Linked DNA regions of Homo sapiens. The protein of the gene in region 3 purifies or fractionates together with the protein of the main gene of each other region. This does not show direct contact. Each region holds a gene or a part of one and is shown on either strand. Other genes may lie near its edges. The genes, in order: OMA1, FBXL18, IRGC and PI4K2A.

Evidence for each region.
Region 1: the proteins of IRGC (region 3) and OMA1 purify together in Homo sapiens (affinity purification with mass spectrometry; 2 studies listed by BioGRID and IntAct, with this or other methods). This does not show direct contact.
Region 2: the proteins of IRGC (region 3) and FBXL18 purify together in Homo sapiens (affinity purification with mass spectrometry; 2 studies listed by BioGRID and IntAct, with this or other methods). This does not show direct contact.
Region 4: the proteins of IRGC (region 3) and PI4K2A purify together in Homo sapiens (affinity purification with mass spectrometry; 2 studies listed by BioGRID and IntAct, with this or other methods). This does not show direct contact.

Annotation. Positions count from the first base shown.
Region 1 is NC_000001.11:58,503,232-58,510,771, forward strand, and holds part of OMA1 (metalloendopeptidase OMA1, mitochondrial precursor), read right to left. Parts: intron 2,979-7,540; coding exon 2,829-2,978; intron 1-2,828. UniProt on the Homo sapiens protein: Metalloprotease that is part of the quality control system in the inner membrane of mitochondria. Activated in response to various mitochondrial stress, leading to the proteolytic cleavage of target proteins, such as OPA1, UQCC3 and DELE1.
Region 2 is NC_000007.14:5,489,810-5,495,061, forward strand, and holds part of FBXL18 (F-box/LRR-repeat protein 18), read right to left. Parts: intron 1,641-5,252; coding exon 1,422-1,640; intron 653-1,421; coding exon of another isoform or gene 598-652; exon of another isoform or gene 404-597; coding exon of another isoform or gene 1-403. UniProt on the Homo sapiens protein: Substrate-recognition component of the SCF (SKP1-CUL1-F-box protein)-type E3 ubiquitin ligase complex.
Region 3 is NC_000019.10:43,712,331-43,720,534, reverse strand, and holds IRGC (interferon-inducible GTPase 5), read right to left. Parts: upstream 4,460-8,204; 5' UTR 4,393-4,459; intron 3,659-4,392; exon of another isoform or gene 3,586-3,658; intron 2,156-3,585; exon of another isoform or gene 2,088-2,155; coding exon of another isoform or gene 1,977-2,087; coding exon 585-1,976; 3' UTR 514-584; downstream 1-513. UniProt on the Homo sapiens protein: Required for sperm motility and therefore male fertility, via positive regulation of spermatozoa fibrous sheath formation.
Region 4 is NC_000010.11:97,662,569-97,670,108, forward strand, and holds part of PI4K2A (phosphatidylinositol 4-kinase type 2-alpha), read left to right. Parts: intron 1-338; coding exon 339-400; intron 401-2,316; coding exon 2,317-2,416; intron 2,417-3,869; coding exon 3,870-4,003; intron 4,004-4,492; coding exon 4,493-4,552; intron 4,553-7,540. UniProt on the Homo sapiens protein: Membrane-bound phosphatidylinositol-4 kinase (PI4-kinase) that catalyzes the phosphorylation of phosphatidylinositol (PI) to phosphatidylinositol 4-phosphate (PI4P), a lipid that plays important roles in endocytosis, Golgi function, protein sorting and membrane trafficking and is required for prolonged survival of neurons.

The DNA.
Region 1 (7,540 bases), on a different chromosome or scaffold from region 3:
TGCTTTAGAGACAGGCCCAGGCCTCCCAGGGTGCGATAAAGTCCCAGGGGCCTTGGATAGCACAAAGGACCCTCTTATAGTCAGTGATCCTCAGTACAAGTCAGTTACTGAAGAAATACATAATGTCCCATGCCTATACTACCCTTTTAAGAGGAATAATTACTACATATTATATCAGGTAAATTTCACTGCTATTTCTTTCTCAAATTTTTTTTTCAAATTAAGAATACAAATGAAATCTAGTTAAGATAGCTGCTGATATAGAGTGAATGTCTGTGTCCTGTCAAAATTTATATGTTGAAATTCCAACTCCCAATGTGATGGTATCAGGAGGTAAGCGCCTTTGGGAGGCGATTGTCATAAGGGTGGAGCCCTCATGAATGGGTTAGCACCCTTTTATAAAAGAGGCTTTTGAGAGCTCCCTTGCCCCTTCTACCATGTGAGGTTACAAGGAGAAGATGGCTGTTTATGAGCTGGGAAGTGGGCCCTCACCAGACACCAAATCTGTTGGAAATTGGATCTAAGATTTCACAGCCTTCCAAACTGTGAGAAGTAAGTTTCTGTTGTTTATAAGCCACCCAGTCTATGGTATTTTTATTATTGCAACCTGAACAAACTAAAATAGGTGTTAAGAAGCCATGCTTGGCTGTCCTCAATGCTCACAAAAGGCACGAAGTATGCCTAAATTACCAACAAATCCTGTCATCACTCCTTTCAAAATATATCCAGAATCTGACTGATTCTTTCCCCATTTTCTGCTACCAGATATCTTGGTCCAAGCCACCATCATCTCCTACCAGGATTATGAGAGTCTCCTAAAAAGTCTCCCTGACTCCACCGTTGCCCCACTAGTCTACTCCACACAATAATGCCAGTGATCACAATAAAACATGAGTCAAATCAAGTCACTCCTCTGCTCAATATCCTCAACTAGCTTCTCCTATCACTTGAAGTGAAAGTCAAGTCCTTACAATGGCTTAGAAGATCCTGCGTGGTCTGGTCCCCTTTCACCTCATCTTGAACTGTTCTTCCCTTCCCTTACTCCATTCAGCCCCAATGTCTTCCTTGCTATTCCTTGAACACATCAAACATACGCTGACTTTAGGTTCTCTGCATCAGCTGCTTCCTCAGCCTAAAAGGCTCTCTCTCCCTCCACACAGCTAAAGGACTTGCTCCCGTGCTTCCTTCCGGATTCTGATTAGTGAGGCCTTCCTTGACAACCGAACATAGACTAGTACCCCTTCTCTGCTGCCCACCCCTCTCTAATACCTTTAATCTGCTTTATTTTTTCCCAAGGTACTTATTATTGCTTGGCATACTATATGTTTGTTTCTTATTTGCATTACCTAACTAGAATGTTAACTCCAAGAAAACAGACTGTTTTGTTCCTTGCTCATTCCCCAGCAATAGAACACAGAATAGTAGATTAATCAATAAGTATCAATAAATATCGATCTACCTAATGAATGAATAAATCTTGCACTAGAGTTTCTTATCCCAAACTAGAAGCAGATTCATCTTCCTTCAAACTGCATACCGTTTTTATTTTTCTTATGATAAATCATATCCTTGTACTAATAATCATTTTTTATTTATCTTAGCATCCTGTAAATATCAAGAACCATATCTTATTCCTCTTTGTATCCCCCACATCTAGCATCATTTCTTTCTTTTAAGAGGTACTCCGTATTTGTTGGGCTGAATTTGAAGTCATACTGAAAGATACTTCTTTTTTTTTTTTGAGACAGAGTCTCACCCTGTCGCTGACTAGAGTGCAGTGGCACGATCTCGGCTCACTACAACTTCTGCCTCCAGGGTTCAAGCGATTCCCCTGCCTCAATCTCCCGAGTAGCTGGGATTACAGGCGCATGCCACCACGCCCGCCTAATTTTGTATTTTCAGTAGAGACAGGGTTTCACCCCGTTGGCCAGGCTGGTCTCGAACTCCTGACCTCAGGTGATCCACCCACCTCAGCCTCCCAAAATGCTGGGATAACAGGCATGAGAAAGATACTTCTATAATACACCTGGATCTGTTGTGCTATGCCTTAGCACATGGCCCAGTACCAATTCTTAAATTGCTAAAAAATGTTCCGCTTTCATAACAAGCCACCAAATTTAATACAAGTGAGATAGAAGAGAGCGTGTAACGTGGCTCAGAGATGCCTAACATCCATTTTGTCCTGATATGGAAACCATAAAAACATTCTGAATGATGTCAACAAATCAAAAGATTTTCAGAGGATACTGAAAACTACTTGGCAGAAAGCCGCCTCAGCTTGACCCACTTATGAATTCTACAGAAAGAAAAGCCAGAGAGCAAATGCTTCACTCTTATCTTCATAAAGAAATAAATAACCAGAAACAAACATGAAGATTTTTTTTCCTAAAAAAACAAATTCCAGTACCACTACTACAATTAATATCCACTTGACCCAAAACTTCTGTACAACTCATTAACTGGTATTTTTAACAAAAAGCTTAAATCACCAAGGAAAGATTAAATTATCATCAACATGTTTAAAAAACTTAATATGCCTTGAGTTTTAAACTTTCATCAAGTCAGTTAAAATTAAAGTCTCATACTAAAGGAGTTAAACCTTCACTATTAAGAAAAGTCAACTGTACATAGTAATTTATTCTCCAAGACTTGTGGACAAGCAGAATTTTGCTTTTCAGTCAAATTCTGTGACAACTGATAATCCATAATTATAGTAATCAAAATAGTTAATAGGCTAGAACTCTCTTTTACTAAGCAAAAGAAGTGACAGCATTAAAAATAAATGATACAGTAAAAATAATGTCCCGCCTTCTACGGTGTCAGCTCACCTGAGGTATAAGTCTATCCAAGTACTCAACTCGATTGCCATGAGAAGGGTGTGTAGATAACCATTCTGGCATCTTGGGTTGGCCATGCAGGCTATCAACGAACTCCATTTGCTGCCAAAACACTGAACTGGCTCTTATGTCTGCACAAGCCTAAAACCAAAATTAGTAAAACCACACAATGAGCTCAGTTTTGAGGATTTTTTAAAAACTACTACTTTATTTTTTTTTAATTCTATTATAATTATACTTTAAGTTTTAGGGTACATGTGCACAACGTGCAGGTTTGTTACATACGTATACATGTGCCATGTTGGTGTGCTGTACCCATTAACTCGTCATTTAGCATTAGTTATATCTCCTAACAACTTTATGTCACTACATGCTTTAAAGTCATTTTCTATCATCACTTTAATAAAAGTAGAACATGCCCATTGCTTAGAAAAAGACCCACCTCAAACAACATGGTATCACAGTACTGAAATAACAGAATGCCTGCCCTTCCCATATACAACATTCACAATAACCCTGCTAACCAAAGATAGCCCACTATTTTCAGTATGATGGATATTAAGAACATGTATTAAGGGTAAAATCTTTTACACAAATTAAAAATTCTGTTTTCATAAAGTTTTAAAATATAATGTTATTAAACTGTATTAAAGAAACTTTACTTCTATGCCACTAGAACAATCAGAAAAAAACTTCAAATAAACATAAAGAGATGACATGTTTATTATGCACATCAATTTACCCAATTTTCTCAATGTATATGGACAATATATTTAATTCATATACCTTATAAAACACAATACCTTATAAAAGTACAATATAAAAGTACATTAGTACTTTTTAAAAGAATATATGTAGATCTTGTGTATGTACAATTCCATCATACACTCATATACATACTCATACGTATATACTTGTATATGCACAGAACATATCTGAGAAGCTATTTAAGAAGCTGTTAACTACCCTAAGAATGTACCTGAGGTATCTGATAGTGGAGAGGGAGCAACACTTTTATTTCTGAACTATATTAAAATACATTATTTTATAATTAAAATTATTTTTAAATCCTCCATAAGGTGGATTATTAACAAATATTTTATTAATTTGTTCAATTTATTCACATTTCTTAACTTATTCTTTCTATAATAAGTAACTGGAAAACAAGTGGTTATATTTCCCAATGATTTTATTTTTGATTAAAACTAAGAAAAAATATATATACTATACTGACTAAAATGTACTCTCAAAAAGATTTATAATAGTGTAATTGTGAAACCCCAAAAGGCAAATATATTAATAGAACACTGCATGCTAGTCAACAACCATGCTACATCATTTCTTAACAAATACCATTAAAGCATTTCCAAATGTTAGCAAAATAAAAAATTTTAAATTCAAGTAAATCTTATTCAATATTTAAAGAAATATAATTCCTTAAGACCTCTGAGTATTCTAAGTTGAAAAGAATTCAAGGTACTTTATACACTACTGCACAGATATGGATATACATGTTTATATGTATATAAACAGGAATATACAAGATAAATGTATATAACAAACATAAATATTATTCATGTTTATACACATATAAATACATATCTATATATGCAAGATGTGTGTGTGCTTATGTGTAAAATATGTATGTAACATATGTATCTATAAAGAAATAATTATTTGATGCTGAATTAGAAACACCCAGAGGACTATGCCCCTCAATAATAGGTAATCACATTCACAATAAAAATACAGGCTGAGATTAACAAGTATTCTTCTCAAATAATTCATAAAAATATAAAATGACTTGAAAGAATTCTAACACAAACAAAAAACCCCTCTGAAAACTGGAAGATAAACATTTGAATGGACTACAAATTCACGAATTATCTAACATGAAGTTTGTCTGCTACACAAACCAAAGGCATACTTATCTAATTTTTTTAGCCTAAAACTGTTAATCAAAAGACAAAATATTTCCCTATTCAATCTCTAAGTAACACAGCTGAAGGGAATCTTTAAAGCAATATTTGATATGCAGAAATAGAAAAAGAAATTAATTATCCCTACAGACTAGAAAGTATTCCAAGCTAAAAGTATTAAAAGGGGACTTGAGATATCTACTTTAATGTTAAGATAAGAGTGTTGAGTTTGTCTGTACTTCTCAAACCCAGTTCAAAGAGCCACTAAAGTCAGATAATTTTGTTTCCAAAATGAGTATTTTATTTACATTTTTCCAATTTAGGAAAAATAAGTAACAGGTTGACATCAGCAAGATGGAAGAATAGGACGCCCTAAACCCTCCTTCCCCACATGAACACACTGATTCAACGATAATATACGAATTCCCTTTGTGAGAAATCCTGAAACTAGGTGCAATGCTTCTGCACCTGCACAAGTACGAAATGAACAACATCAAACCTGGTAGAAGACTGGAGACACCCTCTTGCCATAATCTGCGAGAGCAATTATGTACCCCCAATACAGCACCATATGATCATAAGAACACCTGCAGCTCCCCACCACTCCTTGGGGAAGGAAAAACTTGGCTTGTGTATCTAACATTCCAACTTTTCTAAGAGCTGCCCTAGGAACTGGCTTCTGTCTTGCCAGCCTTGTAGCACTGATGGAATCTAAAACGCCCTAGATATCTAGGGGCCAGTGATAATGTGACAGAAGTTTGAACAAGCACACAAGCAGTTGCCATGACCACTCCCTGAAGCTCAGCATGAAATGAGTTGGAGAGAAACTCCAGAGCCCAGCTTCTCCTGGGGCAGGGCTCGGGAAAGAGGTAGATCACGTGTCCAACATTCTAACATTTCTGAGGGCTGTCCAAGGGACTGGCTTCTGTCTCATCTGTCTTGTAGCACTGATAGGACCCAGCATATGGACCAGATGGACCAGACAGGACCCTAGACACCTAGGCACCACTAAGAACAAAGACAGCACTTTGGACTAGCATGAAGGTTTGAGAGGTTCTGGGAATCTCTGCTGTGCTGACTGGTGAAGATCTTCTCCTGTACAAAGACAGTCTGTAAAGGCTAAGAGGTTGCTGTTTTTTCCTAATGTGTAGATATCAACAATAAGAGTGAAAAAAATAAACAGAGAAATATGTACCAAAGGATGAAGATAAATCTTCAGAAACTGACCCTAATGAAAGAGAAATATATTACTTATCTAACAAGAGAATTCAAAATAACCATCATAAAGACACTCAAAGAGGTCAGAACAATGTACGAACAAAGTGAGAATTTCAACAAAGACACAGAAAATGTAAAAAAGTACTAAACAGAAATTCTGAAGCACACTCCTAAACAACATACTCCTGAACAGCCTATGGGTCAAGGAAAAAAAAACCAAAAAGAAAATGATTTTGAGACAAATGAAAATGAAAACACAATATAACAAAACTGATGGGATACAGCAAAGGCAGTTCTAAGAGGATGGTTTATAATGATAAACACCTACATTAAAAAAAAAAAGAAGAAAGCAAGCAAATAAACTAACTTTATACCTGTAAGATCTACCAAAAAAGAAAAAAAAAAAAGGACTAAGCCCAAAGTTTACAGAAGGAGGGAAATAATAAAGATTAGAGCATAAATAAAGAAAACAGAGAATAAAAAAATAGAAAAAAATTAAAACTAAGAGCTTTTTGGGGAAAGATTTACAAAACTGACAAGTCGTTAGAGTAAGAAAAAAAAAGACTTAAGTGAACAAAATCAGAAACAAAAGAGGACACATTACAGCATACCATTGTAACTGATACCATACAAAGGATCATAAGAGACTACTCTGAACAATTATATGCCCACAAACTGGATAACCTAGAAGAAATGGATAAACTCCAAGAAATATACAACCCACTAAGACTGAAAAAGAAATAGGAAATATGAACAAATCTATAACTAATGAGATTGAGTCAATTATAAAAAACCTCCCAACAAAGAAAAGCCCAGAACCAGATGACCTCACTGGTGAATGCCACCAAAAACATTTAAAGAATTAATGTCAATGACTCTCAAAGTCTTCCAAAAAATTGAGGAGGAGAAAACACTTCCAAACTCATTTTATGAGGCCAGCCATTACCCTGATACCTATGCCAAAGACACTACAAAAAAAAATTACGGGCCAATATCCCTGATGAACATAAATACAAAAATTCTTAACAAAATACTAGCAAGCCAAATTCAAGATCATATTAAAAGGATCACACCTCATGACCAAGGAGGATTTCTTCCTGGTAATCAAGAATGGTTCAACACACAAAAATCAATTAATGTGATATACCACATTAACAGAATAAAAAAACACATGATCATCTCAATAGATGCAGAAAAAGCACTTGACAAAATTAAACATCCTTTCATAATAAAAACTCTCAAACACTAGAAATAGAAAAAAATTATCTCGACATAATTATAGCTATATATGAAAAGCCCACAACTAGCATCACACTTCATGGTGAAAAACAAAAATTTTTTCCTCTAAGTCTAGGAACAAGGCAAGAATGACCAATCTTGCCACTTCTCTTCAATACAGCACTGGGAGTCCTAGCCAGGGCAATGAGGCAAGAGAAAGAAATAAAAGGCATTTAAATCAGAAAGAAAGAAGTAAAATGATTTGCAGATGATATGATCTTATAAGTAGAAAACTAAAGACTCCACACACACAAAAAAAAACCCTGCTAGAACTAATAAATAAATTCA
Region 2 (5,252 bases), on a different chromosome or scaffold from region 3:
GCCAGGTATAGTGGTGCACACTTGTAATCCCAGCTGCTCAGGAGGCTGAGGTTGCAACCCAGAAAGCAGAGGTTGCAGTGAGCTGAGATCCCGCCACTGCACTCCAGCCTGGACGACAGAGTGAGACTCTGTCTCAAACAAACAAACAAGAAAAAAGATTGATGCATAGTCTAAATTTTTAAAAAGTACTCTATAAACACAAGTTGTTTTTACAACCAGAGAGGGGGAAACCCCAACCAGGATTATTCCTGAGACAGCCAGCGGCCGACCGCAAGGACAACAGACTACCCCAGAGTCTGGCAAGCAGGGTTGTCGGCGCCCAGTGGCTCGAGACGTCCTGGCTGATGGCTCTTCTCGCAACTCTGTGAACAGCTGGGGCCTCCTTCCTGTCACCTCTCCCCACCTGCAGGGACACGAACACTCAGGGCGTTCATGTCCTGCTGCCCCCTTGGCCGGGCGCACGCCTCTCTCAGGAGCCCTGATCACTCCAGCAGTCAGCCCGTCCTCCTGAGAGGTCTTGAAATGCGTCACTCCCCACATCGCCTACCAAGCTCCAGCTCTCTCCAGGAATCGCCTCCTCCTAATTTGTGTTCAATTCTAGGTGCTCACCTGACTTCCTGCGCAGCAGCAGAGCATCAAACTCCAGGATGCCCTGTCACGAGGGGAAGCGGAGATGCTAGCTAGCTAAGGGAAGAGGGGCCAGACTATGTGGGCCTTCCAGAAAGGGCCTGACAGCAGGTGGCGAGGGAGAGGGAGAAGGAAAGGTTCTCTGTTCAATCTACCGCCTTTACCCACAACTGCCCAAGTAAGCACTGCTTCTAGATCCAAACAACGGGCAGAGATGTGAAAAATCCAGAGTTAAAGATGGTTGCAGGCTGGGTGCGGTGGCTCATGCCTGTAATCCCAGCACTTTGGGAGGCCGAGGCAGGCGGATCACCTGAGGTCGGGAGTTCGAGACCAGCCTGACCAACATGGTGAAACCCTATCTTTACTAAAATACAAAATACATGCTGGTGGCGCAGGCCTGTAATCCCAGCTACTCAGGAAGCCAAGGCAGGAGAATCGCTTGAACCCGGAAGGCGAAGGTCGCAGTGAGCCGAGATTTCGCCACTACACTCCAGCCTGGGCAACACAGTGAGACTCCGTCTCAAAAGTAATAATAATAATAAGAAGAAGACTTTTGTACTTGTGGGAGAGGAGAGCTTGAACTATCTAGAAAATTTACCATGTGGCTAGGGAATGCTCAAGGAGCAGAGGCTGGGCCGTGGGAGACCAAACCCCTTGCTTTCACCCTGTCACTGCCTGGTGCTCGTCAATTCCAAGAAACCACTGGTAGGCACTCGGTGAAGGCTGGGGACCAGGTCACGGGATGCTGGTGATTTCTGCGGCCCCTGAAGCTGTACGCAACCCACATCACTCACCTGCGGAGAAGCGACTGCTGCAGGCTCTTGCAGGTGGCGAGGGACTCCCCGGTGAACAGGTGGCACATGACAACCTGCAGGCAGCGAGCCATGAAGGCCAGCACGGCATCGGGCTGGAGGGTGCCGCTGCGAGAGACCAGGCACAGGCGCTGCAGCGAGGGGCACTGGCTCAGCGCCTGGAAGAACTGGGCGTTGGCGCTGAAGTAGGGCTGCTCCAGCCTGCGGGGAGAGAGGGCAGCTGTGAGGTCCGAGGGAGGGGCTCGCAGGCCAGGCCAGCTGGGCGTCTGGAGGTGCTGCCAGTGGAAGCTTCCTGGCCTGGGGCCCAGCCCAGCTGTTCCCGCCACCTCCCACCAATACCACTATCCCTTGGAGTACTGGGTGCCGACTCAGGCCCCCAGGGTCCCCCTTGGAGATCTGATTTGGAGGCGACCCGGTGGGCCTGATGCAAGCAGCCAGCCAGTGTCTACAGAGCCCGGCTTCAAGTCACCAGCCGAGGCCATCAGCATCTGTGTCCGCAGCCTGCCTGGTGCACCCCAATGACCCCCAGGCACCCTATCTTCCTCAAACGCTGGTGTGCTGGGCAGCGGATGCAAAGAGGACCCCACACATGGCCCCTGCCCTTGGGAAGCTCAGCTGGACAGGGAGGCAGATAAGGACTGAACACCATGAGAGAGGGCGGTAATCCGGGAGGCTGGTGTGGGGGAGGGAGAGGGCGAGAATCTGGGAGGCAGGGGGTAAGGTGGGCAGGAACTTCAGCCAGATGGGGGCCACTTCAGCCACGACAGATGGGAGGACAGCGCTGGATGGCTGCAGGGCCAAAGGAGGAGGCCGAGGGGAGTGGGGCCAAGCTAAGAGGTTGGCAGCCAGGGCAGGGGGGAGGCCCAAGTCCGCACCAAGGCTACAGTGACAGAGACCAAGACGGGAGAACCCAGGGGAAAGGGGAGGACTTGGGAAAGGGAAGTAGGGGACGACATTCTAGATCCTTCCTGGGGAGTCTGTCCATGCAGACAGAAAGCAGAAGGACAGGCCATGTCTCGAAGTACAGTGGCAGATGTGGGGATGTGGCGCTGCTGAGGACAGGCCCGGGGGGCCCTTGGAGAACCAGGCTGTGGGACTGGGCAAGACCTGGACTGTGGCAGGTTGTGGGGTGCAGCGAGCCCCTGAGATAAGAATCAAGAGGGAGCAGAGAGGCTGGAGGGGAACTCACGTGACTTCAGGGGCTGCCAGGAACTCCCGGGGTGGGGGGAGGAGCCGCTGGAGGGACGGGCTGAGGCGAATGGGGAGGGGCTAGTGTGGACTGAGCTGCGACGCCCCCCCACACACACACTATGCAGGAGTCCTCACCTTGGGACCTGAGGGTGTGGCCTTATTTGGAGGCAGGTTTGTTGCGGATGCAAGGGAGTTAAGAGGAGGATGCATCCTGCATGATGGGGACTCTAAATCTAATGACTGGTTCCTTATAAGGCCAGGTGAAGGCACAGAGATACCCAGACACAGACAGAAGGCGGCCAGGTCACAACAGAGGCAGAGACTGGGGCCACGTGTCCACCAGCCAAGCAGTGCCAGGCGTGGCTGGCAGGCGCCCGAGTTCCTCCTCACCATCCTCAGAAGGAATGAACCATCCCTGCCCATAGCCTGATTTGGGGCCTCTGGGCTCCAGAATCGTGAGACAATAAATGCCTGTTGCATGAAGCCACTCAGTTTGTGATCAATTGTCCTGGCAGCCCCAGGATCCTAGCACAGATGCTGAGGGCAGCCACAGCAGAAGGCGCCACAGGCATGGAGATTCTTCCCTGGTAGGTGACACAAAAAGACCAAGTCACGGCGGGCATGGTGGCTCACACTTATAATCCCAGCCCTTCAGGAGGCCAAGGCAGGAGGATCACTTGAGCCCAGGAGTTTGAGAAGAGCCTGGGCGACATAGTGAGAGCCCAGCTCTACAAAAAGTACAAAAATTATCCAGCCATGGTGGCACGCACCTGTACTCCCAGCTACTCGGGAAGCTGAGGTGGGAGGATCGCTTGAGCCCAGGACTTCGAGGCTGCAGTGAGCTAGGATCGTGCCACTGCACTCCAAGCTGGATGACAGAGCAAGACAGTCTCGATCTGTTGCCCAGGCTGGAGTGCAGTGGCGTGATCTCAGCTCATTGCAAGCTCCCGGGTTCACGCCATTCTCCTGCCTCAGCCTCCCGAGTAGCTGGGACTACAGGCGCCTGCCACCGCACCCAGCTAATTTTTTGTATTTTTAGTAGAGATGGGGTTTCACCGTGTTAGCCAGGATGGTCTCAATCTCCTGACCACTTGCTCCACCCGCCTCAGCCTCCCAAAGTGCTGGGATTACAGGCGTGGGCCACTGCACCTGGCCAAAATTTTTTTTTTAAAAGAATAAAGGAAGTGTGGCTCATGAGAGACTGGTTATTTACTTTTGTGTGTGTGTGCGTGCGTGCGTGCGTGCGTGTGTGTGTGTGGAGACAGGGGTCTCACTATGTTGCCCAGGCTGGTCTCCAACTCCTGAGCTCAAGCAATCCTCCTGCCTCAGCCTCCCAAAGTGCTAGGATTATAGGCGTGAGCCACCATGCCTGGTAGTTAATTTTCTTTTAATTGATTTAAGCAGAAATTCTCAGCCAGGTGCGGTGGCTCACGTCTATAATCCCAGCACCTTGGGAGGCTGAGGCAGGCGGATCACCTGAGGTCAGGAGTTCGACACTGGCCAACATGGCAAAACCCTGTCACTACTAAAAATACAAAAATTAGCCAGGCAGGCCGGGCACGGTGGCTCATGCCTGTAATCCCAGCACTTTGGGAGGCCGAAGAGGGCAGATCACCTGAAATCGGGAGTTTGAGACCAGCCTGACCAACATGGAAAAACCCCATCTCTACTAAAAATACAAAATTAGCTGGTCGTGGTGGCACACACCTGTAATCCCAGCTACTCGGGAGGCTGAGGCAGGAAAATCGTTTCTACCTGGGAGGCAGAGGTTGCGGTGAGCCAAGATGGCACCATTGCACTCCAGCCTGGGCAACAAGAGTGAAACTCCATCTCAAAAAAAAAAAAAAAAATTAGCTGGGCGTGGCGGGGCATGCCCATTATCCCAGCTACTGGGGAGGCGAAGGCAGGAGAATTGCTTGGAGGCAGAGGATGCAGTGAGCTGAGATCACACCACTGCACTCCAGCCTAGGTGACAGAGCGAGACTCTGTCTCACACAAAAAAATAAATAAATAAAATTAAATAAATAATAAAATAAAACATCCAAATTGTCTTTATTTTTCTATATTTGTTTTGTTAAGCTATTCAGATTGTTTTTATTTAAAGATAGTAATAAAATGTTTTCATTACGTATATTTTAAATACCACCTCTCCCTAAAAAAATCCTAAAGTAAACAACCCTTTGCAGACCGGAAGGTGGGAAACGGGAAGGGGTAAAAAAGACGGTGCAGGCGCCGCACCTGCTGAGCTGCAAAGTCACCTCTGGATTTCTCTCCAAAGCAAAAGCAGGAGGCTCCAGACAGCAGGAGATGGAAACGGGGCGTTGGGCAAGGACGGTGCCGTCGTGTGGTCACTAGGTGGCGATGCGGCTCCGTGCTACCCGCCCCAGATCGCCCCGAGCCTCTGGGGTTAAAAACCAAGTCTGCAGAGCGTGGAAAAAAAACCTTTTTTCCACGAGATAACCACATCCACATTCTTCCGCCCCGGAGGAAGTCACCTGTCACAGGTGTTCAGGATGTGGCAGGCCCACGGGAGTGACTGGTCAGGCAGCGGGCCTGGCACGTCTAAAGCTTCCTAGGCTCCCACAGCACGCCGCCTGGGGCACGGCACCCAGGACGGTGGCA
Region 3 (8,204 bases):
ATTAGCTGGGCTTGGTGGTGCTCACCTATAATCCCAGCTACTTAGGAGGCTGAGGCAGGAGAATTGCTTGAACCTGGGAGGCAGAAGCTGCAATGAGCCGAGATCGGGCCACTGCACTCCAGCCTGGGTGACAGAGCAAGATTCCATCTCAAAAAATAATAATAATAAAATAAAATAAAATAGAAAGCACCTTAGCAGGATGCAATCTCCTGTCTTGGCCCTGCTGTCCTGTGCCCCACAAATTCCTCCTGGCCACTTGGGGACCAGGGAGAAAGACACCACCAGGGAACCCTGGGCCCACCATCCATGTCTCCAACCTCCCTCTCCAGGGCACTCCTGTCCCCTTTCACTACACCCCTGTTGGCCCTGGGCCCACCTGCCTCCCTCCTCCCCTCCCCAGTGCCCCCTCCTTTGCCCTGCCCAGGACGCCGGCTCCCCTGCCTGCCAGGGACACAGGCTCCCTCCACACCCACCCCCCAGGCAACTGCAGCCCTCACATTCACCACATCGGCCTTTTTTGTTGGTAATTTGGATTTTGTTAAGACTTAGTTTGTGGGTGAGGCAGGGGGGCGGGGCTGCACTCTTTATTTCTCTTCTGAGTCGTGTTTCTTCCAGCTGTCCAGAATGTACTTAAGAAGGAGGCCGAGCTTCCTGCAGGTTGAGAGTGGGGCTTCCTCCCCACCTCCCTCCCCGGAGCCCCCCTTTTCCACGCCATTGTCACTGGCCACTTCCAAGCTGACCTCCGGCTGCGGCTCGTCATCCTCCAGGGCCTTGATGCGGACACGCTGGGCGTCCTCAGCCATCTCGTTGAGGCAGCCCTGGAGCATGGTGTAGACAGCGCCAAAGCTGATGCCGCCAGCCACCAGCGTCCCAAACACAGGGATGCCCCTCTCAAAGGCGCGGGCCACCCGCATGGCGCCGTCGGACGACTGGGAATAGAGCCGCAGGACAGTCTCAGGCGAGACCTCGTTGGCCAGTGGGGAGCGGATGACCGAGCGCAGGTCACCTGCCTGTTTGCCCACCTGCTCGGCCAGCTTGGCCAGCGAGTCGTCGTCCAGACCAAAGCTGCGGTGGTAGCCACGCAGTGAGTGGATGAGCAACGCATCATCGTAGGCGGCCGCCAGCCCTGGGACCGGCAGGGCCTGGATGACGCCCAACACCAGGGCGGTCTTGAGGACTTGCTCTTGAAGCATGGCCTTCTTCTTCTGCAAGGCCTCCAGCGAGATGTCGGGGAGCGACAGCAGGCCAGCGTGGCGCCGGTGGGAGGGCAGGTCGTGCTCCCAGGTGGACACCAGCGTGGGAAAGTCGTAGCGGGCCGGCGAGAGGTTGGACACCAGGAAGATGCGAGGGTCAGCCACGCCGGCCTCCCGCAGCCGCTCGGCACAGTGGTCTCGGATCTCCTGCAGGACAGCGGCCTCTCTGAAGCCCGACGGCCGCTGGGTGCGCGTGGCCGCCAGGTCCTCGTCCACCTTGGTGCGCACAAAGTAGAACTTCTTGCCCTGGCACAGGATCTCAGCGGCCAGGCGGGTCTCGACGGCCCCGCAGCGGCGGGGGGAGACCAGCAGGAAGAAGTCATAGCGGCTGAAGTCTACCTGCTTTAGGTACTTGTCAGCCGGGCAGCCTGGAGAGCCGGCTCCTGGCAGGTCCCAGAGGGTCACGTCAGGGAACTGTGGGTGTGGATAGGGCGACGGTTGCATCGTGGTCTCCATGACGCCCGTGAGAGCCGCGCCAGGGTCCTCGGCCTCCAGGCCACGCAGGGCATTGATGAGGGAGGACTTGCCCGCGCCCGACTCGCCCGTGACGCCCACCTCCAGGCGGATGCTTTCCGTGGAGGCCAGCAGCTCCTGGAGGTGAGAGGCGGCCTGGGGGAGGTCACCCGACTCAAAGGCTGTGCGCAGGGCCTCCAGCCTTTCCTTGGCCATAAGGATGGTGTTTTCCTCCTCCCCAGGCACCACGGGCAACTTTGAAGTAGCCATGGTGGCCAGTGGTTCAGAGGGTGGCGGGGGACAGGGGAGAGTCACAGGATGCGTGATCCTCAGCGCCTGCAGAGGAGAAGGGAGCCATTCACACCTCCTGGGCCTTGGCATGGGGCAGGGAGAGACAGATACCACGGATGTGAAGGGAGTCGCCCTGGAAGCCCACAGCTCTCTTTTTCCTTCAAGAATTGGGGACACATTTTTGGCACAAGTTAGAGGGCTTTGGGGTCTGGCAGGCCCAGGTTCACATCCCTTTTCTGCCACTAACTTGCTGTGTGACCAGGGGCAAAATGAAGCACCTCTCTGGGTAATGGGCATGACCACCAAGCAGCCTCTTGGAGCACTATTGGAGTCTCCAGGGTAACCTAGGCACAGGTCAGTTTTCTGGGTGTATGTGTGCCCTGGAGGGTTCTGTGCTTAGAATGGCCCAGTGCTTGGTTTAATGCTCTGCTGACACTAGCTGAAATTGTTTGTTTGTTTGTTTGTTTGTTTGAGACAGGGTCTCTCTGTCATCGAGGCTGGAGCACAGTGCTACGATCATGGCTCATTGCAGCCTTGATCTCCTTGGCTCTAGCAATCCTCCCACCTCAGCCTCCTGAACAGCTGGGACCACAGGCGCATGCCACCATGCCCAGCTACTTTTTAAATTTTTTGTAGAGATGGGAGTCTCACTATGTTGTCCCAGCTGGTCTTGAACTTCCGAGATCAAGGTCCTCCTGCCTCAGCTTCCCAGAGCGCTGGGATTAAGGGCATGAGCCACTATGCCTGGCCTGAAATTCTTTATAATATTTGAACCAGGGGCCCCATATTTTCATTTCGTACTGGGCCTTGCAAATTATATAGCCAGGGCAAATTACATAGCCAGGGCTGCATAGGAAAGGGTGGTACAGGCCCATTCAGAGGAAACAGCTGCACTCCTGCGGTGGCTGGGATTGGAGGGTAGGGTGGAGGGGACCCAGACCCGGAGCCAGACTGCCTGGGATCAAATCCTGGCTCCACCACATACTTACTGAGTGATGTGAGGCAAGTTACTTAACTCTCTCCTCACTCTCCTCATCTGAACACTGAGAATGATACCTACAATCCTGGCAAACCACCTCCTAGGATCTCTGTGACTTGAATGAGTTATGACATAAAGCAGCCCATAAAACGGCGCCTGGCTCAGGGCAGGTGCCTCGTGTCATTGGCATCACCATCATCGTCATTATTCTTATCATTAGTAATATTCTTAGCTGTGTGACTTTGAGCAAGTCCTCGCCCTGTCTGAGCCTCAGCTGCCCCGTGGGGGATACTCCTCCCCACCTCGCAGGGCTGCTGTGATGCCCACAAACCCCGTTCAGCTAGCCCTAGGCTGACTTTGGGTTCAGACGCCCTTGGGTTCGGGAAGCCAGACATGGGGACCACCTGGACACCAGGAGTCATTTCCATGAAACCCCACCCCTGCCATGGCAGCCCTTGCCTCCCGGGGTTCAGTTCCCCTCCCACCGCCCAGAGCTCCTGTCGTGATGGTCCCCCCTCAGATCCCTCCTCCTCACCAGGAGCTTCCCTGGTCCTCCCTCTTCCCACTCACCCTCCTCTGGCCCATCATCTCTAAAATACATTTACTCACTAAGGGTCTTCAGGGTGCCCTGGGAGAGCTGCTCATGTCTGGGATCACTGTCCCCATTTGACAGGGAGAAGGACTGAGGCTCAGACAAGACAAATGAGGTCTCCTCATCCAGAGGCATAGCCAGGACCCCAACCCAGGTCCCCAGGCTCCTTCACCCACCTAGAGAGCTACTCTCCCTTCAGCTGCATGTCCCTGCCTCCTGCATTGTCTCCTTGCCCCCTGCACCCCGTCTCTTCACCTCCTACCACTCACCCCATCCTCTGCTACCCCACTCCACCCCCCACAGAAATATGTCCTTAAGACATTGTTCCCGGCTGGGCATGGTGGCTCACGCCTGTAATCCTAGCACTTTGGGAGGCCGAGGTGGGTGGATCACTTGAGGTCAGGAGTTCGAGACCAGCCTGGCCAACATGGTGAAACTCCATCTCCACTAAAAATACAAAAATTAGCCAGGTGTTGTGGCGCATGCCTGTAGTCCCAGCTCTTGAACCCAGGAGGCGGAGGTTGCAGTGAGCCAAGATTGCACCACTGCACTCCAGCCTGGGCGACAGAGCGAGACTCCGTCTCAGAAAAAAAAAAAGGAAAAAAAAAAGACATTGTTGCCTCCAGATCTGAGCCTCCTATCCTGGGTGTGCCCTCTCCCTAGTATGGTCTGCGGTGGGAAGAGTAGGAACCTGGAACAGGTCCTGGCAGCAAGGGGCAGACAAGTCAGTGGTTGGAATTTGGGCTGAGGGGGTCCGGATTAGACCATAAGCTCCTGCTCCGCCCACGCACAGGGGCCCAGCGAGAGAGCCCTGGGGGACTCACCTGCCCTGCAGGCTCTCCCTCTCCCCTCACACTCTCCCCACTGATAGGATCTCCTTCCCTCTTAGCCAAGGTCAGACACCGTTGCTAGGACCCATTATCATAGCAAGCAGCAGCTTATTGGTCAGCCAGACCTGGTGCAATAATGCGACAGTGATGTCAGGGGGTGGGGCCCGGAGGTGGAGCAGGGACCCCAAGCCCCAGCTGCTCATGGGGTCACCACCCACTCACACTGGGCCCTCCAGTTCCCCTGAAGACTCCAGAGAGATCTTTCTAACACCAAGACCTGTTCAAAATCCTCCATGGTCTCCATCACCCCCCAAGGACAAAGTCTCAGATTCACAGATTGGTTTCCAAGGGCTTGGCCCTGCTACCACTCCACCCTCCACCCAGGGGACTGTCAGTTCCCCAGAGAAGTGTGAAAGTTGATGATACAAATTCGGTCATTGCTGGTGGGCACAGTGGCTCACGCCTGTAATGCCAGCACTTTGGGAGGCCGAGGCGAGTGCATCACTTGAGGCCAGGAGTTTGAGATCAGCCTGGGCAATGTGGTGAAACTCCATCTCTACTAAAAATACAAAAATTAGCCAGATGTGGTGCATGCATGTAGTCCCAGCTACTCGGGAGGCTGATCTGCTATCTTGTAAGCCCAATAATTTAGTCATTGATTTCTTTTTTTTCTTTTTTTGAAACAGTGTCTTGCTCTGTCACCCAGGCTGGAGTGCAGTGACACAATCTTGGCTCACTGCAACCTCCGCCTCCTGGGTTCAAGTGATTCTCCTGCTTCAGCCTCCTGAGTAGCTGGGACTACTAGCATGCACCACCAGGCTTGGCTAATTTTTTTTTTTTTTTTTTTTTTTTAGTAGAGGTGGGGTTTCACCATGTTGCCTAGGCTGGTCTTGAACTCCTGACCTCAGGTTATCCGCCTGCCTCGCCTCCCAAACCTCCTGACCTCAGGTTATGCCGCCTCCCAAAGCGCTAAGATTACAGGTGTAGCCACTACACCCGGCCCCTTCTTGTCCTTTATAAGTGTCTCTGTCCTGTCTCCCCTCCGGGCTTCCTCTCTGCCCAGGCCAGGCTCCACAGGGCCTTCTCCATTCTCCTCTTGTAGGGAATTTACAATAACGCTACTCAGAGGATTTTCCTGACCATCTGCAGGCCAGTTCTGGAAAGGAGCCTCTGAGAACAACTAAGGAGAGAGAGGCCCAGAAGGGGAATAGACTAGCTCAGAGCCACCCTGAGAGCTGGGGAAGAGTGGGCTGTTGGCCGCATAGTACAGAGTTCTTAAGCCACAGGTGAAAGGGAGGTGCAGGGCAAAAGACACACGACTCACTCATGCTCTCACTGACTGACACAAACACACAGAGCTGAAGAGAGTGAACAACATGGTTCTCAGACTTCCCCGGACACCGAGCACACAGACCAGCAGACAGCAAGGACTCCTTCCCAAAATGCATGGACACGCACCCCTGGCCCAAGAGAGAAGGGAAAGACACAGAAAGAGCCTCAAATACAGAGTTACTTCGTGGCTGGGCATGGCGGCTCACTCACGCCTGTAATCTCAGCAATTTGGGAGGCCGAGGTAGGAGGTTTGCTTGAGCCCAGGAGGTTGAGACCAGCCTGGGCAACATAGCAAGACCCTATCTCTTTTTTTTTTTTTTTTTTTTGAGACGGAGTCTCGCTCTGTCTCCCACGCTGGAGTGCAGTGGTGCAATCTCGGCTCACTGCAAGCTCCGCCTCCCGGGTTCCTGCCATTCTCCTGCCTCAGCCTCCCGAGTAGCTGGGACTACAGGCGCCTGCCACCGCGCCTGGCTAAATTTTTTTGTATTTTTTAGTAGAGACGGGGTTTCACCGTGTTAGCCAGGATGGTCTCGATCTCCTGACCTCGTGATCCGCCCACCTCGGACTCCCAAAGTGCTGGGATTACAGGCGTGAGCCACCGTGCCTGGCCAAGACCCTATCTCTTAAAAAAAAAAAAAAAATGAGCCAGGTATGATGGTGCACATCTGTAGTCCCAGCTACTCAGGAGGCTGAGGTGGGAGGATTGCTTGAGCCCAGGAGTTCAAGGCTGCAGTGAGCCGTGATCATGCTACTGCACTCCAGCCTGGGTGACTGAGCAAGATTCTGTCTCTAAACGAAACAAAACAACAGAGTCACTGAAGGAAAGCAAGACTCAGACAAACACACACTTACCAAAGCCTCGCAAACACACACATTCCGGGACACAGATGTGCAGACTTTAAGAGACACAGTTACACACTGACAACATATACAGAAACCCCGAAACCCACTGACTCCATTCAGGAACCTCATTCATTCTGCTGCAGCAGCTAGGGCTCCAGAGATGCATCAAACCCAGGCACTGCTTCAGGGGCTCCAGGCCCGAGAAAATGGAGATTATTGCAGCCCAGGATGATTGTGGACCAAGAAAGAGAGCCACTGCCACCTGCACACATGCACCGATGCAGACTGGCATGTTCCCAGGGATGCCCCTAGCAGCTCCTGAGAGCACCAGCCAGAGAGAGAGGGGTTGCACCCTGCCTATCTGCATGCTGGAAACGCAGCAATGGACAAGACAGCCAGGCTCTGCCCCCACAGGACTCAGAGTCCAGTGGTGGAGTCAGATCCATCCCAAGATAATGATGACAGAGGGGGCAGCACTGGGATGGGGGACCCCAGAGGGCTGTGGGAGCACAAAGGAGGAAGCCCGACTCAGCCTGGGAGTCAGGGAGGGCTTCCTGGAGGAGGGGGCACCTGACCTGAGATCCAAAGGATGAGTAGGAGTGAGCCAGATGGCACATTAGGGAGTTGCATCCCAGGCTAAGGGACCAGCCTCTGCAAAGAACCTGAGTTGAGAGAGAACTTTCATTCGTTCAATAATAAACTCAATTTCAGGCACACCTCATTTTATTGCATGCAGCTTTATTGTCCTTCACAGATACTATGTGGTATTTTTTGCGGGGGGGCGGGGATGTGGTGGAGAAGAGGGTCTTGTTCTGCCACCCAGGCTGGAGTGCAGTGGCGTGATCTCTGCTCACTGCAACCTCCACCTCCTGGGCTCAAGCAATCTCTACTACCTTTGCCTCCCAAGTAGCTGGGACCACAAGCACGCGCCACCATGCCCAACTCTTGTTTTATTTATTTATTTATTCATTTATTTATTGAGACGGAGTTTTGCTCTTGTTGCCCAGGCTGGAGTGCGTGGTATGATCTTGGCTCGCTGCAACCTCCACCTCCCAGGTTCAAGGGCTTCTCCTACCTCAGCCTCCCGAGTAGCTGGGACTACAGGCATGCGCCACCATGCCCGGCTTGTTTTGGTATTTTTAATAGAGATGGGGTATTGCTATCTTGGCCAGGCTGGTCTTGAACTCCTGGCCTCAAGTGATCTTCCCGCCTTGGCCTCCCAAAGTGCTGGGATTACAGGCATGAGCCACCCCGCCTGGCCTGATACTATGGTTTTTACAAATTGAAAGTTCGTGGCAACCCTGTGTCCAGCAAGCCCGTTGGTGCCATTTTTCCAACAGCACGTGCTCATTTCATGTCTCTGTGTCACATTTTGGAAATTCTCACAACATGTCAAACTTTTTCATCATCATTATCTCTGGTATGGTGATCTTTGATGTTAGCATTGTAATCATTTCGGGGCACCATAAACTGTGCCCACAGGTAACAACAAACTTAATTGATAAACATTGTATGTGTTCTGACTGCTCCACTGACTGGCCATTTTCCTGTCTCTCTCCTTCTCCTTGCACCTCCCTCTTCTGTGAGACACAACTATAATGAAATTAGGCCAATTAATGACTCTAAAATGG
Region 4 (7,540 bases), on a different chromosome or scaffold from region 3:
TCTCTCTAGCTCCACAAGGCTCTTATAATTGTTCTACCTCTCAAGCTCTTAGCCAGCTCTTTCCAAATTGGCAGGTGCTCTAGGGGAAAAGAAGCCACAGTGCTGGGCTCCACGTCCTCCCATGGATTTCCTTTCTCTCCCATATCTTCACTCTTAAATCCTTTGTGGTCTTATTAAAATCTCCAGTACCTTAAAAAAGATCTAAAAATATTTTATCCAGCATTTGTAGTCATTCTCAGTAGAAGCGTTAGTCCGAGTGTCCAGAATACCTAGTCCACCATTACAAAAATGGAAAATCATCCCCCCTTTTTCTGCTAACTTTATATTTCTGTTCACAGATCGAGGCAATGACAACTGGCTGATTAAATATGACTGTCCAATGGATAGTTCTAGCTCTCGGGTAAGAGACTGAGATAAATCTTAAAGAGAATGAAGAGTATTTGCATAATATAGAAACACATAAAATGGTCAGAGATGTAGTTCATACAAGTTCAGAAGAATCGGGGGGCGCATATGTTTAAAATTAATAGGTTAATATTTGGTAAAGTTTTTCTCAATATGTGTTTCAAGGACATCCTACTGACACATGTTAATAGGAATAGCATGAAGAAAGGGTCAAGTAAATTTGGAACATATTATGTACTCTGTTCTTTGAGCTTCTTATTGCACAGTAGCATAGTAAAGGTCTGAGAAGTACTACGTTAAACAAACCTATTTAAATTTGATTTCTACCCCTTTTAAACCATGAACCACTTTTCTCACAACAGACCGCAAGTCCACAGAACATAAGTTTAGAAAAAGCTGCTCCTGCAACTTTCTTTCCTTTCTCATTCCTTTCATCCTCCACCATACTTCTCTATCACTGTTCAGTCTACATGTTTTACAAAATTAGCAGAAGGCTGCCTAGGGGAGAGTGAGATTGGTTTTATTTCTTTTTTCTTTTCTTTCTTTTTTTTTTTTTTAAGAAACAGGGTTGGCCGGGCATGGTGACTCACGCCTGTAATCCCAGCACTTTGGGAGGCCGAGGTGGGAGGATCACCTGAGGTCAGGAGTTCCAGCCTGGCCGACATGGTGAAACCCCGTCTCTATTAAAATGCAAAAATTAGCCGGGCATGATGGCGGGAGCTTGTATTCCTAGCTACTCGGGAGGCTGAGACTCGAGAATGGCTTGAACCTGGGAGGCTGAGGTTGCAGTGAGCCAAGATCACACCATTGCATTCCAGCCCAGACGACAGAGCAAGACTCTGTCTCAAAAATTAAAAAAAAAAAAAAAAAAAAGAGACAGGGTCTTGCTCTGTTGCGCAGGCTGGAGTACAGTGGTGCTATCCTAGCTCACAGCAGCCTTGGACTCCTGGGCTCAAAGCAGTCCTCTCACCTCAGCCTCCTGAGTAGCTGGGACTACAGGCGCAAAAGTTGTTTAATGTTTTGTAGAGATGAGGTCTTGCTATGTTGCCCAGGGTGGGGTTTTCATTCCTTATAACTTTTTTACTTTCTCTAATAGTGGCTCTCAAATTTTGTGCCTGAATCTTCTGAAGAGTTATTTAAAATAGTACACAGATTCTTCAGGCCTTTCCCTTAGAAACTGATTCATCAGGTCTGGAGTAAAACTCAGGATTCTGCACATTTAATAAGGTATCTCAGGGGATTCAGATTCAGGCATCCTGGAACCACAGTTCTTGTTCCTGTGATGGCACCCATGAACCTGAAGCATGGAGCCACATAGTCAGTGATTGTCTCTGACATGGGCTGTCACAGGTGACATGCCCACTCTTTTTACATTCATCTCTTGTCCTTTTCCTTTTCATGCACCACTGAAGCAGGAGAACAGACTCCCTTGTGCAAGAGCAGCCAGCTGTTATCTTCCGAGGCTCTGTTTTCTCACTGGAAAATGTAGTTGTCACCAGTGAAGTAACATCTGAGTCAAGGTCCACACAAAAGGACCTTGGCCAACTGATATGGATTTTATTTCTTCTGTTCTGCTTTCAGGATTCTCATTTTCTTTCCCTAGGAGGAATGGCTTATAGTTATCTTTATTATTGTCATTTCCTTCTTACCAAGGACTGTAGCAACTCTTGGGGAAGTGTACCTTTTCTAAGATAAGAACAGGACTCTTGAACTTTGAACAAGAGCCAGGTCAGAGGCACCAAAATGTGCTAAGTTCAGATAACAACATGGAAGCCAGTTCAGAGAGTAGCTCAAGATAAGTTCAATAAGAATTCTTCTCTTGAGGGAGTTGGGATGAGTTGCTTTGCTACTAATTGGAAGGGCCTGAGGGAGATGGGTTTCCTCAGTCATTAGTCTTTCCTTGCTCTTCAGGACACAGACTGGGTGGTGGTGAAGGAGCCTGTTATCAAGGTGGCTGCCATAGACAATGGGCTGGCCTTCCCACTGAAGCATCCTGACTCCTGGAGGGCATGTAAGTCTCCAGACAATGGTGGTCTGGCTCTTCCCTTGCTCAGTATATTTTCTCACTGTGCAGTGGAGATGATAATGTCTCTATCATAGGATTATTCTAAAAATTAATGAAATAATGGAGTTCAGGCACTTTAACACAATGGCTGGCATATGGCAACTATTTCATAATGTAAGCTGTTTTTCTAATTTTTGTCTTCTATGATTCCCATTACAAGCATAAAGGTGATTAGAAATTAGAAGCATAAAGATGAGTTTTCTCATTGTCTCTTTGCATTCTTCTCGTTCTTTCTGAGGACTTTTTTTTTTTGGAAATGGAGTTTCGCTCTTGTTGCCCAGGCTAGAGTGCAATGGTGCGATCTGGGCCCACTGCAACCTCCACCTCCTGGGTTCAAGCGATTCTCCTGCCTCAACCTCCCAAGTAGCTGGGATTACAGGCATGCGCCACCACGCCCGGCTAATTTTGTATTTTTAGTAGAGACGGGGTTTCACCATGTTGGCCAGGCTGTTCTTGAACTCCTGACTTCAGGTGATCTGCCTGCCTCAGCCTCCCAAAATGCTGGGATTACAGGTGTGAGCCACTGCGCCTGGCTGAGGGCTATTTATTTTTTATTTATTTATTTTTTTTTTGAGACGGAGTCTTGCCCTGTCGCCCAGGCTGGAGTGCAGTGGCGCGATCTCGGCTCACTGCAACCTCCTCCTCCTGGGTTCACACCATTCTCCTGCCTCAGCCTCCCGAGTAGCTGGGACTACAGGCACCCGCCACCATGCCCAGCTAATTTTTGTATTTTTAGTAGAGACAGGGTTTCAGTGTGTTAGCCAAGATGATCTCAATCTCCTGACCTTGTGATCCACCCGCCTTGGCCTCCCAAAGTGCTGGGATTACAGGCATGAGCCACTGCGCCCGGCCCTTTTTTAATTTTTTAATTTGTTATTTTATTGTTTTAGTGTATATTTCCTGAAATATCTTTTTTTTTCCTGTTATCTGAGGACTGTCTTTCCATAATTTATTCTAATTGTGCCTCTAAATATAAGCTTCCTATCAGTGTTCTGTCTTCCTTGTTCCATCTCCTACCCTGTTGTAACTGAGAAGCTTCTGGAAAGGAGGAGAAATAAATGTAGGGAGTCAGTAGCCCCTTTTGCAGCATTAGTCTTCCTTTTCAGAAGGACCATCTCAGCGTCTCAGTGGCAAGTAGTTGCTTCTAGACCTTGCATCTTGGAAGGTCATGTAATGTCTGAGAATGAGCTCTGACATTAGGCAGCCCTGGGTTTGAACCCTGGTTCCTCTACTGACTAGCTGTGTAACCTTTACAGTTAAGAGCACTTGTAAGTTTTTGTTTCTGTTGTATGTCAGGGAAGAGGGGTTCTCCTTTAGAAAGTGCCTTGACTGGTGGAGGACACAGATGAGCAGGGACTTTTCCAACACCAGCTTTGCCTTTGACTTTTCCTCTTTTCAGATCCTTTTTACTGGGCCTGGTTGCCCCAGGCGAAAGTCCCATTTTCTCAGGAGATCAAAGATCTGATCCTTCCAAAGATATCGGACCCTAACTTCGTCAAGGACTTGGAAGAGGACCTATATGAACTCTTCAAGGTTAGCCCTGGGAACCTCAGCCCTATTATCATATGGGAGAAGGAATTTTTAATGGTTTTTTTAATTGGTCCTGACAAAAGCCAAGAGGAAATGGCTAACACCTTTCTGACTTGAGTTAGCCAACGAATAGCAAGATTTCCACATGTGGACAGCAGGACCTGGTTTGGATGGGTTTGAGAGAAATGGGCAGGGGTGAGAAATCACACTGATGTGTCTCTCCTGTCCATCATGTGGCTGCAATGTATCTGCAGGGCTTTCATTTTAATATGGAGCACTGGAGCCTAGAGTTTGAGATGCAGAGGAAGATATTGACTTGTTTTCTGTTTCCTCATCTGTAAAGCAGGGAGTTCTTGTGGGAGTAGTTGACTTCACAAAGCTGCAGAAGCCTTATGCAGGTTTTCCTTCTTAGAAAGTTTCTAACTGGGGGAGAAAATGGGTTCCTGTGAGGCATTCACACAGGTTCCATCTCCTTCTGGTCTTCTTTTGCAGAAAGATCCTGGTTTCGACAGGGGCCAGTTCCATAAGCAGATTGCTGTCATGCGGGGCCAGGTAAGCCTGGGACATCCTCCCAGTATCTTTGGCGTCTCTGGGAGTGTTGTGTGCTCAGGTTGAGCAAATGTTTGAAGTTTGTGTTTTATACCCCCCCCTTTTTTTTTGAGACCGAGTCTCACTCTGTCACCCAGGCTAAAGTGCAGTGGCATGATCTCTGCTCACTGCAACCTCCACCTCCCAGGTTCAAGCAATTCTTGTGCCTCAGCCTCCCAAGTAGCTAGGATTACAGGCGCATGTCACAACGCCCGGCTAATTTTTGCATTTTTAGTAGAGACAGGGTTTTACCATGTTGACCAGGCTGGTCTCGAACTCCTGACCTCAAGTGATGCACCTGCCTCTGCCTCCCAGAGTGCTGGGATTACAGGCGTGAGGCCCTGCGCCCGGCCGTGTTTTACAGCTTTTTTAAGTCCGTTGTGTACATTATTTTTGGCTGTACCTTAACACCTAGGAGAGGAAAAGTGGCCCTCCCAATTCTCCCACCTCTTCCCTGGTATCCAGTGCTTGTTGAAGCACTTAATGTGCACTCATCTCTATGCTAGTTGCTAGGTAATTCATTGGTAATTAAACTAATGCTCTCTGTCCTAGAGTTGCTCAAGGCAGGCTGTATGTTTTGGTGGTTAAGATCTGGGCCCTGGAGCCAGACTGCTTCACTACTTGGAAGCTCTGTGGCCTGGGGCAAAAGCCTCTGTTTTCTTGTTCATAAAACAGGATAGTAATAATACGTTGCACAGTTGGCTGGAGAATTTCATGAGATAATGCTTATCAAGCGTTTAGTAAAAAGAGTACTGGGCACATGAAGCACTCACATATTGATTATGGTTATAATTTTGTTGTTATAGGTGCAACTTACATTATTCCTTCTCCTTCCACTTCACCTTCAAAGGGAGCTAAGGAAACCAAGGGGATTGTTGATCTTCCAAAGCATAGTAAAGAAATGCTTGAAAAATGGTTTGAAAACTCTGTAGGGTACTGGTATTATGCCTATCACTTTGAAGTCTTCTTAAAGAGAGTTGGGATGACCTAGTGGTTAAGGGTGCAAACTGTGGTCACAGTGCCTGGGTTTTTGAAGCCTGGCTCTGCCATTTACTACCTGTGAGATTTTGGGCAAGTTACTTAATCTCTCCTTCCCTTAGTTTCCTCATGTTTAATGTGGGATCAATAATAGTAGCTGAGACCAGGCATGGTGGCTCACACTTGTAATCCCAGCACTTTGAGAGGCTTAGGTGGGCAGATCACTTGAGCTAAGGAGTTGGAGACCAGCCTGGGCAACATGGTGAAACCCCATCTCTACAAAAAACACAAAAATTAGCCATGTGTGGTGGCGCACGCCTGTAATCCCAGCTACTCAGGAGGCTGAGGTGGAAGGATTGCTTGGGCCTGGGAGGTCTAGGATGCAGTGAGCTGAGATGGCACCACTGCACTCCAGTCTAGGGGACAGAGTGAGAACCTGTCTCAAGATAATAATAATGGTACCCACCTTACAGAATTATTATGAGATAAATGATTTGAAACAGTTAGAGTAGTACCTGGTATACTAAAATACTCAATTTGTAGTATTAATAGCTGTTAGGATTATGATTTTTGTATACAGAAAATTCAGCTTCTCCCATCTTTAAAGGGCAAGAGGATCTTCTCAGCCTTAATTCTGCATTTACTTCTTCCTGCCATTTATCTAAAGACCTCTGATGACAGCACCTCCTGGGTTTGCTGAGCCCATTTTTCCCTGGAAGGGGGTTGGACAGAGGTTTTTTTTTTCTTTTGAGACAGAGTCTCACTCTGTCACCCAGGCTGGAGTGCAGTGGTGCGATCTTGGCTCACTGCAACCTTCACCTCCCAGGTTCAAGTGATTCTCCTGCCTCAGCCTCCCAAGTAGCTGGGATTACAGGTGCATGGCACCACACCTGGCTAATTTTTGTATTTTTAGTAGAGATGGGGTTTCACCATGTTGGCCAGGGTGGTCTCAAACTCCTGATCTCAGGTGATCTGCCTGCCTCGGCCTCCCAAAGTGCTGGGATTACAGGAGTGAGCCACTGAGCCCGGCCTGGACAGAGGTTTTAAGAACTACAATTATTGTAGCTGTCTGAATACCAGTAACATGGTATTCCTACATTTCCCAAGTAATGTAAGGGCCCAATTAGGCTGGCAGAATTTTTGGAAGCATTAAAAGCCATGTGATAGACTCAGATGTTATGGAACTCAGCATAAAGGAGTAAACTGGCTTCTCCAGTTGATATAGGCTGTGCCTCTGTCCGTATTGCAATGTCTTATCTAATTCCATCCCAGCTCAGTCCCTTGCCAACCCTTCTCCCATTACTCAGATAGTGCCATTATTCAGGATGGTAGGGAGGTTGGGGTAGTGCAGTTTTATTTATCTCCATCTTGTGCTCCTAATGTCTTCAGAGGAGCTTTTGGTATCTTGTAACCTAAAGTGCCTACTACCTTAGGGTGACCATCCAGCTCCTTCCAACATGTACATGGCCAGTATATCACTCATGTGCTTACTTGTCTACCATTCACACATCAAAGCAAAATGTGTGCACTACAAAATTTCTGCACTACAGAAATCTGACAAAGCACAGAGAAAAGAGGTCATAACCCTGTCTACATAGCTGAGCCATTATTGCAGGATGGGCTGTAGTACAAGGGCCCTGAGATGTAGGGAAAGAGTGAAGAGGCCCCACAGGGACACAGTCAGGTGATAGAAGTTGTTACTCAACTTAAAGGCTTCTCACCGGGAGTTAAAGAATCTAGGGTCTGAGAGAAAGCCTCTGTAACATTTTCTTTTTCTTTTCTTTTTTTTAAAGACAGGGTCATGCTCTGTCACCTAGGCTGGAGTGCAGTGGCCCAATTGTAGACCACTGCAGCTTTGAACTCCTAGGTTCAAGAAGTCCTCCCCCCTCAGCCTCCTGAGTAGCTGGGACCACAGGCATGCACCACCATTTCTGGGTAATTTTTTTTAAGAGGTGGGGTCTCGCTATGTTGCCC